Linked DNA regions of Homo sapiens. The protein of the gene in region 1 purifies or fractionates together with the protein of each later gene. This does not show direct contact. Each region holds a gene or a part of one and is shown in the gene's direction. Other genes may lie near its edges.

What was found.
Region 2: the proteins of TAS2R31 (region 1) and PACSIN2 purify together in Homo sapiens (affinity purification with mass spectrometry; one large-scale study listed by BioGRID and IntAct). This does not show direct contact.
Region 3: the proteins of TAS2R31 (region 1) and TPP2 purify together in Homo sapiens (affinity purification with mass spectrometry; one large-scale study listed by BioGRID and IntAct). This does not show direct contact.

Annotation. Positions count from the first base shown.
Region 1 is NC_000012.12:11,029,870-11,032,959, reverse strand, and holds TAS2R31 (taste receptor type 2 member 31), read left to right. Parts: upstream 1-1,552; 5' UTR 1,553-1,624; coding exon 1,625-2,554; 3' UTR 2,555-2,573; downstream 2,574-3,090. UniProt on the Homo sapiens protein: Receptor that may play a role in the perception of bitterness and is gustducin-linked. May play a role in sensing the chemical composition of the gastrointestinal content.
Region 2 is NC_000022.11:43,008,614-43,012,270, reverse strand, and holds part of PACSIN2 (protein kinase C and casein kinase substrate in neurons protein 2), read left to right. Parts: intron 1-3,657.
Region 3 is NC_000013.11:102,634,892-102,638,548, forward strand, and holds part of TPP2 (tripeptidyl-peptidase 2), read left to right. Parts: intron 1-695; coding exon 696-811; intron 812-1,332; coding exon 1,333-1,501; intron 1,502-2,190; coding exon 2,191-2,348; intron 2,349-3,347; coding exon 3,348-3,424; intron 3,425-3,657. UniProt on the Homo sapiens protein: Cytosolic tripeptidyl-peptidase that releases N-terminal tripeptides from polypeptides and is a component of the proteolytic cascade acting downstream of the 26S proteasome in the ubiquitin-proteasome pathway.

The DNA of each region.
Region 1 (3,090 bases):
ACAGTGTACTAGATAGGCCATACTCTTATGGTAAATGGAAAGAAGAAGAATCCCCAGTATGGAAGCCATCTCAAATCTCTATGCAAACTGTAGTAATTTTCTGTTTATCAAAGTAAGTGAAATGATTGAACTCCAAGTTCAGGGGCAAGGTAGTCAGTCTTCCTGTGATAGGATACTGCAGGATTATATATCAAAGGGTCTGGTACTGAGGAATTCTTATAAAATTGCTAAATATTTTTTATAATAATATTTAAACATTAGACTTGAGAGAAACTTTACCAAGTCCTAAGAATTAGAGATAATGTTTTTGATAAATAAATATTATTCATGGGCTGAAAACCCTGAGTGGGAAAATAGGACTAATTTCATCTGCACAGCCTCTTGGAAACTCATTTTTTATTTTGGAAATTACAAGAAAATAATTTGTTCCATTCATAAGTGGTGTGCACATGTGTATATTTGTGTGCATATTTATGAGTTTGTGAATAATGAAGTTATACGAAAGTGTTAGCAGCAACCAGATCTTATGGAGTAGTGGCCTGCCTGTGGTTCTCAAGAAAATCTGAGATGCCTTTGATAAAAGCAGTTAGGATTCTGTGTATTTAAATCTGTGATTTAAAAAAGTCCGCATTGGTGATGATCTTAGTTATGACCAAGCTCCCTTTGAGAATTTAGATATTTACTATATGATATATATATTGAGTTACAAAACTTCCCTAACAACTGAAGTCACTAAAGATAAATGATGGAGAGGTTACACAAGGAAAAATTGCAAACACTGAAAGTGAATATGTCCCTATTTGCGTACTAGCAAATGAGGATTCAGGTTTCACGTCAATTTCAGTGTGAATAATTCCAGCCTATAACAAGAACAGACAGTGAATGAATGAGTTAATTTGAGTTGTTTGAAAATAAGAATGTTTTCCATAAAGAGATCATTGAACTCATCAGTTAACATGCCATGGTTATTTCTGGCTTGACACTGGTCACAACAATTAAAAGTAAAAAGAATGTCACAGCACATTCACAAATCAGGTGCATATAGAATTTAAGGTCAGGATATTCAAGCAATCACACCCAGTTATATTACATTGAGAGATGAAGCGAGCTATACTTTCTGAATCGAGTGGGGACTTGGAGAACGTTTCTGTAGCTAGCAAGGGGATTGTAAAATGCACCAAACAGTGCACTGTAAAACCACAGCAATCAGCGCTCTGTAGCTAGCAAGAGGATTGTAAAATGCACCAATCGCTCTAAAATACACCAAGCAACAGGATCCTAAAAGTAGCCAATGGCAGGGAGGATTGAAAAAAGGGCACTCTGATAGGACAAAAAAAGGAAAATGGGAGGGGACAAATAAGGGAATAAAAGCTCATGGCTTCAGCCAGCAGCAGCAACCTGCCTGGGTCGCCTTCCTCCCGGTGGAAGCTTTGTCCTTTCTCTCTTCTCAATAAACCTTGCTGTTGCTCACTCTTTGGGTCCATGCCATCTTTAAGAGCAGCAACACTCACCGTGAAGGTCGGTGGCTCCATTTTTGAAGTCAGGGAGACCACGAACCCACCTGCAGGAACCAACTCCGGACACAACACCAGCATTAAAACAATTTTTTTTTGTCTGTTCAGACATGACAACTTTTATACCCATCATTTTTTCCAGTGTGGTAGTGGTTCTATTTGTTATTGGAAATTTTGCTAATGGCTTCATAGCATTGGTAAATTCCATTGAGCGGGTCAAGAGACAAAAGATCTCTTTTGCTGACCAGATTCTCACTGCTCTGGCGGTCTCCAGAGTTGGTTTGCTCTGGGTATTATTATTAAATTGGTATTCAACTGTGTTTAATCCAGCTTTTTATAGTGTAGAAGTAAGAACTACTGCTTATAATGTCTGGGCAGTAACCGGCCATTTCAGCAACTGGCTTGCTACTAGCCTCAGCATATTTTATTTGCTCAAGATTGCCAATTTCTCCAACCTTATTTTTCTTCACTTAAAGAGGAGAGTTAAGAGTGTCATTCTGGTGATGCTGTTGGGGCCTTTACTATTTTTGGCTTGTCAACTTTTTGTGATAAACATGAAAGAGATTGTACGGACAAAAGAATATGAAGGAAACTTGACTTGGAAGATCAAATTGAGGAGTGCAGTGTACCTTTCAGATGCGACTGTAACCACGCTAGGAAACTTAGTGCCCTTCACTCTGACCCTGCTATGTTTTTTGCTGTTAATCTGTTCTCTGTGTAAACATCTCAAGAAGATGCAGCTCCATGGTAAAGGATCTCAAGATCCCAGCACCAAGGTCCACATAAAAGCTTTGCAAACTGTGATCTTTTTCCTCTTGTTATGTGCCGTTTACTTTCTGTCCATAATGATATCAGTTTGGAGTTTTGGGAGTCTGGAAAACAAACCTGTCTTCATGTTCTGCAAAGCTATTAGATTCAGCTATCCTTCAATCCACCCATTCATCCTGATTTGGGGAAACAAGAAGCTAAAGCAGACTTTTCTTTCAGTTTTGCGGCAAGTGAGGTACTGGGTGAAAGGAGAGAAGCCTTCATCTCCATAGATTCATGAGAGGGGCATTGTGTGTCTTCTAGCAGAAAACAAACTGGTGGTGTATGAAACATTTTATATTTCTTACTGGTTTTTCTATACTGTATGTGTATGAATAATTTCCCAACGTATACCTAGAAAAGCCTTTGACCTAATATTAGTCTAGAAAAAAAAATATATATATGTGTGTGTTTATGTGTGTATGAAAACTTAAGAACATTGACAATAACATGCTCTTTTCTGTTTTTTTCATACAAACTGCCAAATTATACAAAATATGACAAAAATTTCTTAGAATTTTGAAGCCATGTATATTTCATTCATGTATTTTATATTTCATTTGTAGAATTTATGATGTCTATTTATAATTATTAAGAAGTAACAGCTTATCCCAGGATAAATATTGCTCTTTTCTATTGTTATTTGAACCACAGGAATACACCACATTGTGCTTAGAATTCATTGCTTGAACCTCGAATTTATTGGATGGTAAAGTCATTCAATTCTAAATCAATAATGAGGATGTATCTTTGGTGTTTTATTCCATTA
Region 2 (3,657 bases), on another chromosome or scaffold:
GCCTCAGCCTCCTCAGTAGTTGGGATTACAGGCGCCTGCCACCTTGCCTGGCTAGTTTTTGTATGTTTGTATGTATGTATGTATGTATGTATGTATGTATGTATGTATGTATGTATTTATTTATTTTGAGACAGAGTCTCGCTCTGTCGCCCGGGCTGGAGGCAGTGGTGCGATCTCAGCTCACTGTAACCTCTGCCTCCCAGGTTCAAGTGATTCCCCTGCCTCAGCCTCCTGAGTAACTGGGACTACAGGCATCCACCACCACGCCTGGCTAATTTTTGTATTTATAGTAGAGACGGGATTTCACCGTGTTGGCCAGTATGGTCTCGATTTCCTGACCTTGTGATCCACCTGCCTTGGCCTCCCAAAGTGCTGGGATTACAGGCACCTGCCACCTTGCCTGGCTAGTTTTTGTATTTTTAATAGAGATGGGGTTTTACCATGTTGGCCAGGCTGATCTGGAACTCCTGACCTCAGGTGATCTGCCCACCTCAGCTTCCCAAAGTGCTGGGATTACAGGCGCCTGCCACCTTGCCTGGTTAGTTTTTGTATTTTTAATAGAGATGGGGTTTCACAGTGTTGGCCAGGCTGATCTGGAACTCCTGACCTCCAGTGATCTGCCCGCCTCGGCCTCGCAGATGTCCTTGCCTTTTGTTTCTTCTCTATACCTTGAAAGTCTGTGCTGTGTTAAGGGCGTCATGCTCAGGCTTACTGATTCTGAAGGGGTTATCAGTGGATGATTCCGGATGTTGTGGAATATCAAACAGATCGAAAAGTTTCTTTAATAATAGTGATGGCACCTTGTGTTTAGAGTTCGCAGTGGCATTTACCAGATGCTCTCTGGCCACCTTCATGTGAACCTCCCAGCTGACTCGGGCCTGCTTTATCTGCCATCAGATTGTAATGGCAGCTTTGTGGAGGCCGCCCTGTAGATTATGCGATTAATGACCACATTCATGTGAGCAATAGTGCTGGCTTAGTTTTTTTCCAGTTAGGTTGTTTGGAATGGTAGCTGCATACCTGAGGGCAGTGCAGCAATGCCTTAGTTACGAAGGCAGTTTGCATTCCACAGGTAGAGTCTTTCCTTATGGCCAGGGCACTGATCCCTCACATACCAGAAAGTATCATTCGTCCCTGCCCCAGACAGACTCCAGATGCGTCCCAGTGGTGGTTCTTGGGATAGTTTTGTAGGAATTTCTGCAGAATTTTAGTGTTCAGATGAGTATGCTCTGTCTGTGGACTGGAGACAGGCTTCAAAGAATTCTCAAATTATTCTGCACAATACATCATTTTTTGGTATCTCTGCAGTTCCAAAGGTAACTACTTGAGGGACAGTGGCCACCAAAGAGCACAAGTTTTGACATTTTGATGAAAAGCACACATAAAACAAATAAAAACCACCTTTCCTTAAGTTACCTATTGAATTGTGCTTATTCCCATAAATGCATGTTCATCTGTTTGCTTAATAAAACTTAAAGCACCATAGAGTCTTTCTTGTTTCCTAGAATAAGGTCTTTTTTCTTTTCCTTTCTTGTCTTTTTTTGTTGTTGTTGTTGTTGAGACGGAGTCTCGCTTTGTTGCCCAGGCTGGAAGTGCCCTGTGGTGTGATCTTGGCTCACTGCAGGCTGCGCCTCCCGAGTTCATGCCATTCTCCTGCCTCAGCCTCCCAAGTAGCTGGGACTACAGGCGCCCGCCGCCACACTTGGCTAATGTTTTGTATTTTTAGTAGAGACGGGGTTTCACTATGTTAGCCAGGATGGTCTTGATCTCCTGACCTTCGTGATCTGCCCGCCTCTGCCTCCCAAAGTGCTGGGATTACAGGCGTGAGCCACCGTGCCTGGCCGGTCTTTTTTATTTTCAATTAAAAAAAAATATATATATATATGTATTTTTAAACAGAGATGGGATTCCGCCATGTTTGCCAGGCTGGTCTCAAACCCCTGGCCTCAAGTGATCCTCCCATCTCGGGTTCCCAAAGTGCTAGGATTACAGGTGTGAGCTACCACACCTGGCCTATTTTCAATCCTAAAAAAATCATTTGCGTGTTTCTTGATTTTAGGCACTGAACTAGACGGAGATGAGAATATAGAAATAATAAAATGGGGCTGGGCGCTGTGGCTCACACCTGTAATCCCAGCACTATGGGAAGTAAAGGAGCAGATCACTTCAGGTCAGGAGTTCGAGACCAGCCTGGCCAACATGGTGAAACCCCATCTCTGCTGAAAATACAAAAATTAGTCGGGTATGGTGGCGTGCGCCTATAATCTCAGCTACTCGGGAGGCTGAGGCAGGAGAATCACTAGAACCCGGGAGGCAGAGGCTGCAGTGAGCCGAGATTGTGCCACTGCACTCCAGCCTTGGGTGACAGAGCAAGACTCTGTCTCAAAAAAAAAAAAAAAAAAAAATAGAAAAAATAAAATGATGTCTCAACTATCAAAGACCTCGCAAGAAGCCTTAAAAATGATAAATAAGGCTAGAGATTTTGCTGTACCTTTGGAAAGTGCATGTGTGGTGGTTTATAGTACATATTCTGTGGCCAGATAAAATTTATATGATTATTTTTCCTCCCAAGAATATGAGATGACAGAGGGGGAGGAGCGTGGATGGAGACTAGGAGCCTTGGGCTCTTGTCCAGCCTTTCCCTGACCAACCCTGAGGTCTGGGACAATCAGCACAGAACTCCAGGTCTCAGTTTTCATATTTGTAAAATGAAGGACTTAGAGGACCTTCACCTTTTGCAAATCTGATAGCAACTGTGACCCCTTCCCACGAAGGGGGACAGCTTCATAGGCGTGGACCCAGATTAAGAACTGGATTATTCCATCTCTAAGCTCCCTCTCACCTGTGATATTCTGTAATCCTATTTTCCTGGTCATCTTTGAGCTAATAATAATGATGACTTGTATTTATAGAAGATGCACATTCCAAAGCACTTTCACCTCTCATTCTTTTGTCCTCAAAACATTTCTGAGTGGTACAGGTGGCAATAGATATTCCTTCCTGTGATGAAGAAAGTGGGCCAGGCTTGGTCAGCACGTTGATGGAGCAAACAGCCAGAGGCCGTCCTGGGACCAGAACTGGGGCTCCTGGTTGCCATCCTGGGGCTTTTCCATTAGGTTTTGCTTCCTTGGTGGTTGTCATTATGAGTTATGTTTGGCAGTTCAAATATCCCAGAATGTGTCACTCGTAGAGGAAACTATTTGTTCATCTGCCGGAAAGGACTGTTTTTCTCTCTGAATTTGGATCACTAAACACCTTTTCTGTATGTGAAAAGGCTACTTATTTGTTTTTGTTATTTTTTCTTGCCACATTTTTCATAGGGACAGTTTGTAGGGCTTGAGTGTTTTGAGCAGACTTATTTAATGCTTATTGATGAAAGAGTACATTAAAATGACTACTTCTCAGTTGCTTAGCACTTGAGAAAGTTGTGAAATAAATGTTAAGTAAAAATTCCAAATGTCTCACTTGTCCTATCCAAGTATGTCCTCACAGATGAGATGCTTTCTGCAGTCTAGGAGGCCCCTCCCTGGGCCCAGAGCCGCTGGGTGGGTTTGAAAGTTGGGTGTGGATTGTGCCAGTGGCCAGGACTGTCCAACAGTGGCTGCTTGTGGCCTTCTGGCTAGATTCCTAACATTTTATGGACTAATTTTTTTGGTT
Region 3 (3,657 bases), on another chromosome or scaffold:
CTGCCATGTTGTGGCCTTGCAGACTCCTGTACATTCTCTAAGAGGCGGCTTATCTGTCAGTTCCTCTGATGTCTGACAATATCATCAATGTTTATGTGTTTAATGAGCTCTGGAGAGGACAAGAATGATACAGCACTCATCTTATGAATTGGTGGCCTCCATATTCTTCCCATAAAACAGTAATTCCCAACCTGGCTGTACCCTAGAATCATCTGAGAGTTGTTTAATAAATAACAATCTCTGGGACAGTCCTCAGAGATTCTGATTTAATTGGTCTGTCATGAGACCTCAGCATCTTTTTTGCTTGAGTTCCCCTGGGGTTTATAACATACAGTTGGGTTGAACACCACAGCCAACAGCCATCTTGTTTAACCCAGCAGTGTTTGAAAGAAAATGTCATTCACATGCTTTTAGATATCTGCTTTGTACGTTTATATTACGCCACAAAGCCCACACCAGTCTCTCTGCCCACCACATAATGAGAACACAGTGATTTTTGTGGAATGAAGCCTTCATGTAATGCAAGCAGTTTGAGTCAGACTGTTTAGTTCAGGTCTTCAAAAAAGATTTTAAAATGAGTGTTAGAACACAAGACATTAACACCAGAGGGTCTACAGGTGATCGATCATACTGGTGGGCGGCTAAGGTTTCAGATAGTGAGTGCTACACTACTTGTTTTTGTTTCTTAATTTTAGGTCTGAAAGCTAATAACATTGACTACACAGTTCATTCAGTCAGAAGAGCTCTAGAAAACACTGCAGTGAAGGCTGACAATATAGAAGTATTTGCTCAAGGACATGGTATTATTCAGGTATTGTTGCCTATATGAAAAATGGGTTGTAAAGCATCATTGAGATAATATCTTAGATATTATTGGGTAATATTTTGTTTTATAACAGTGATTCAGTATATCTGAATTATGGATTATATGGCCATAGAACTACAAGCAAAAAGGATACACAAACAAATTTTGTAGTTAAGACAAATCTGTTGCACTAAGATCAAGAAATGTAATAGATGGAGGCCATGTAGAGGTTAGAAATTCAAAGAAATCGAGGTCAAAAACTGGCCAATCATAACGGCATAGGGATTAGTTCCTAAATTTGGTCACTTGAGAATAACAGTGTGAATAGAGTGGAGTGGAAGATGTGACTGGTGTTGTTTCTAAAAATGTAGAATTGTCCTCTTAGTTGGGGTACTAGGTAGTTTTGAGAGGTGAATATAGACACTAACTTTTTGTTTTACAACTGAAATCAAATTGATTGGTAATTTGCAACAAAATATTTTTTGACCCAACCATTTATATCTTACCATGTATATTATTTTCACTAGGTTGATAAAGCCTATGACTACCTCGTTCAGAATACATCATTTGCTAATAAATTAGGTTTTACTGTTACTGTTGGAAATAACCGTGGCATCTACCTCCGAGATCCTGTTCAGGTGGCTGCACCTTCAGATCATGGCGTTGGCATTGAACCTGTATTTCCGGAGAACACAGGTCAGTAATAGGCTGGCAGTAAGCTGACGTATTCACATTTGCTGTTTGAATGAGTGGTATCATAATAAAGAATTGCTGTTTGGGCCAGTGTTGTGAAGAGAATACATGAATTGACAGTATGATTATTTTAAATCTTAGTCATAAGAGAAAATATTAGAGCAATTTGGGGTCCTTGTACAATGGCAATTTAGTTAGCATCTTAAACTACCAGGGAAAACAGTAGAATGAGCCTCAGTGACCCACAGCTTTATTAAATTGTGGATAATAAAATATCAAATTTCTTTTCCACTTTACCTACTTAGGTATAAGACAGAGCTTTCTGTTGAAGAATGAAAAGTAGAAGCAGTCTAGGAGAACTGCAGCTCGATTAGGTGTGAACAAAAATAATCATCGCTATTATCTGGCTGTCTTCATTTCAGTTGAATACTATGACCTGTGTGCAGTAATGAAAACATTCACTTAAACTCTTTATTTTAAGGTCATACCAGTGCTTGGTGAAAGTATAAATGAATCATGAGTAATCTAAATTGTAAGGAAGATTATTTGACTGTTTTATTTAAGCTGTGTTTTGGATGCATTTTACAGCCAACCAAACCAAGTCGCTAAATTTTTTTGGAAAGATGTAACATTTTTAAATGGAAAAAAGGAAAAAAATACTCATCTTTAATTTTTGGTCTTTTTCGTGCCAGAAAACTCTGAAAAAATATCCCTTCAGCTTCATTTAGCTCTGACTTCAAATTCATCTTGGGTTCAGTGTCCCAGCCATTTGGAACTCATGAATCAATGTAGACACATAAACATACGTGTGGATCCCAGGGGCTTAAGAGAAGGATTGCATTATACAGAGGTATTGATGTATCTTCATTTTTACTTTCTTCACTCTTTAAAATGTTTAAAAGGTTAAAAAAAAATCCAAAGTATATTTGCAATATATTGCTTTCTTGCTAAGAAATAACTAGACCTATCCATCTGCCAGGTTATTCAGTTCTTCTGGTGTGTCTATATTCATTTAAGCAGTGAGTTTCTAAAGAATCATATTTTGTCCTTGTATGAATAAGTAAAAGGAAAGAAGAGGTACAGCAGAACCTTTCAATTAGATCTCCCTCTAACTGGTGTTTTCTTTTGTCAGCTAAACAAAGCTGCAGTTGCTTGTTGTTGTTGTTGTTGTTGTTTTAAGAGACAGAGTCTTGCTCTGTTGCCCAGGCTGGAGTACAGTGGTGTGATCGTGGTTCGCTGCAGCCTTGAACTCTTGGGCTCAAGTGATATTCACACCTTAGCCTCCTGAGTAGCTAGGACTAGTGGCGTGCACCACCAAGCCTGGCTAAATTTTTTTATTTTTGTAGAGACAGGATCTCTCTATGTTGCCCAGTCTTGTCTTGAACTCTTGGCCTCAAGTGATCCTCCTGCCTTGGCCTCCCAGGGCTTTGGGATTACAGGTGTGAACCACCACACCCAGCCAGTTATACCTTTTAGTACTCAGATGAAGAAAGCATCTGTTAAACAAATAGTTGTAAACCAGGCATAGAATAGTATCACAACAGTATCTCCACATCTAAAGTTGTCTGTAGTACTAGTTTGAGCTAATTTTTCAGTTGGGAGTAATTAAAATGCACTTATTTTGTACCTGACGTCTCATTTTCCCATTTCAACTGGTCAAATGTTGCTATACATTTGTTTGGGCTGTTTGCTATTAATTATGTGACCTAGTGTCAGGAAATTGGTGTCAACCTCTGGTTAAGACCTTGATTAAAAGTAGATTGATTTATTCTGTCAGTAGTTTAGACCTTCCCCCGCTCTTTTAAACATTTGTTTATGGATATTGACACTTACCGATTCTTTTTTCAAGGTATGTGGCTATGATATAGCATCCCCTAACGCAGGTCCGCTCTTCAGAGTTCCGATCACTGCAGTTATAGCAGCAAAGTAAGTAACAGGTTACTCACAGCTTACTGGTACATCTAAGATTTTAATGACTATTCATGGAGTCTTGTGGACTTTTAATGATCACTAATACAGAACCAGGTAATGGGGATTTTGTCTTAGTTCTGCTCCCAGCTAGCATTTTTAGGTGTCATGTAGTCAGCCATACTGACTCTTGTGTGCTCTGAGAGTAACTGATGGCACCTGGCATCTGCCCTACCTCTGCATCAAAACTA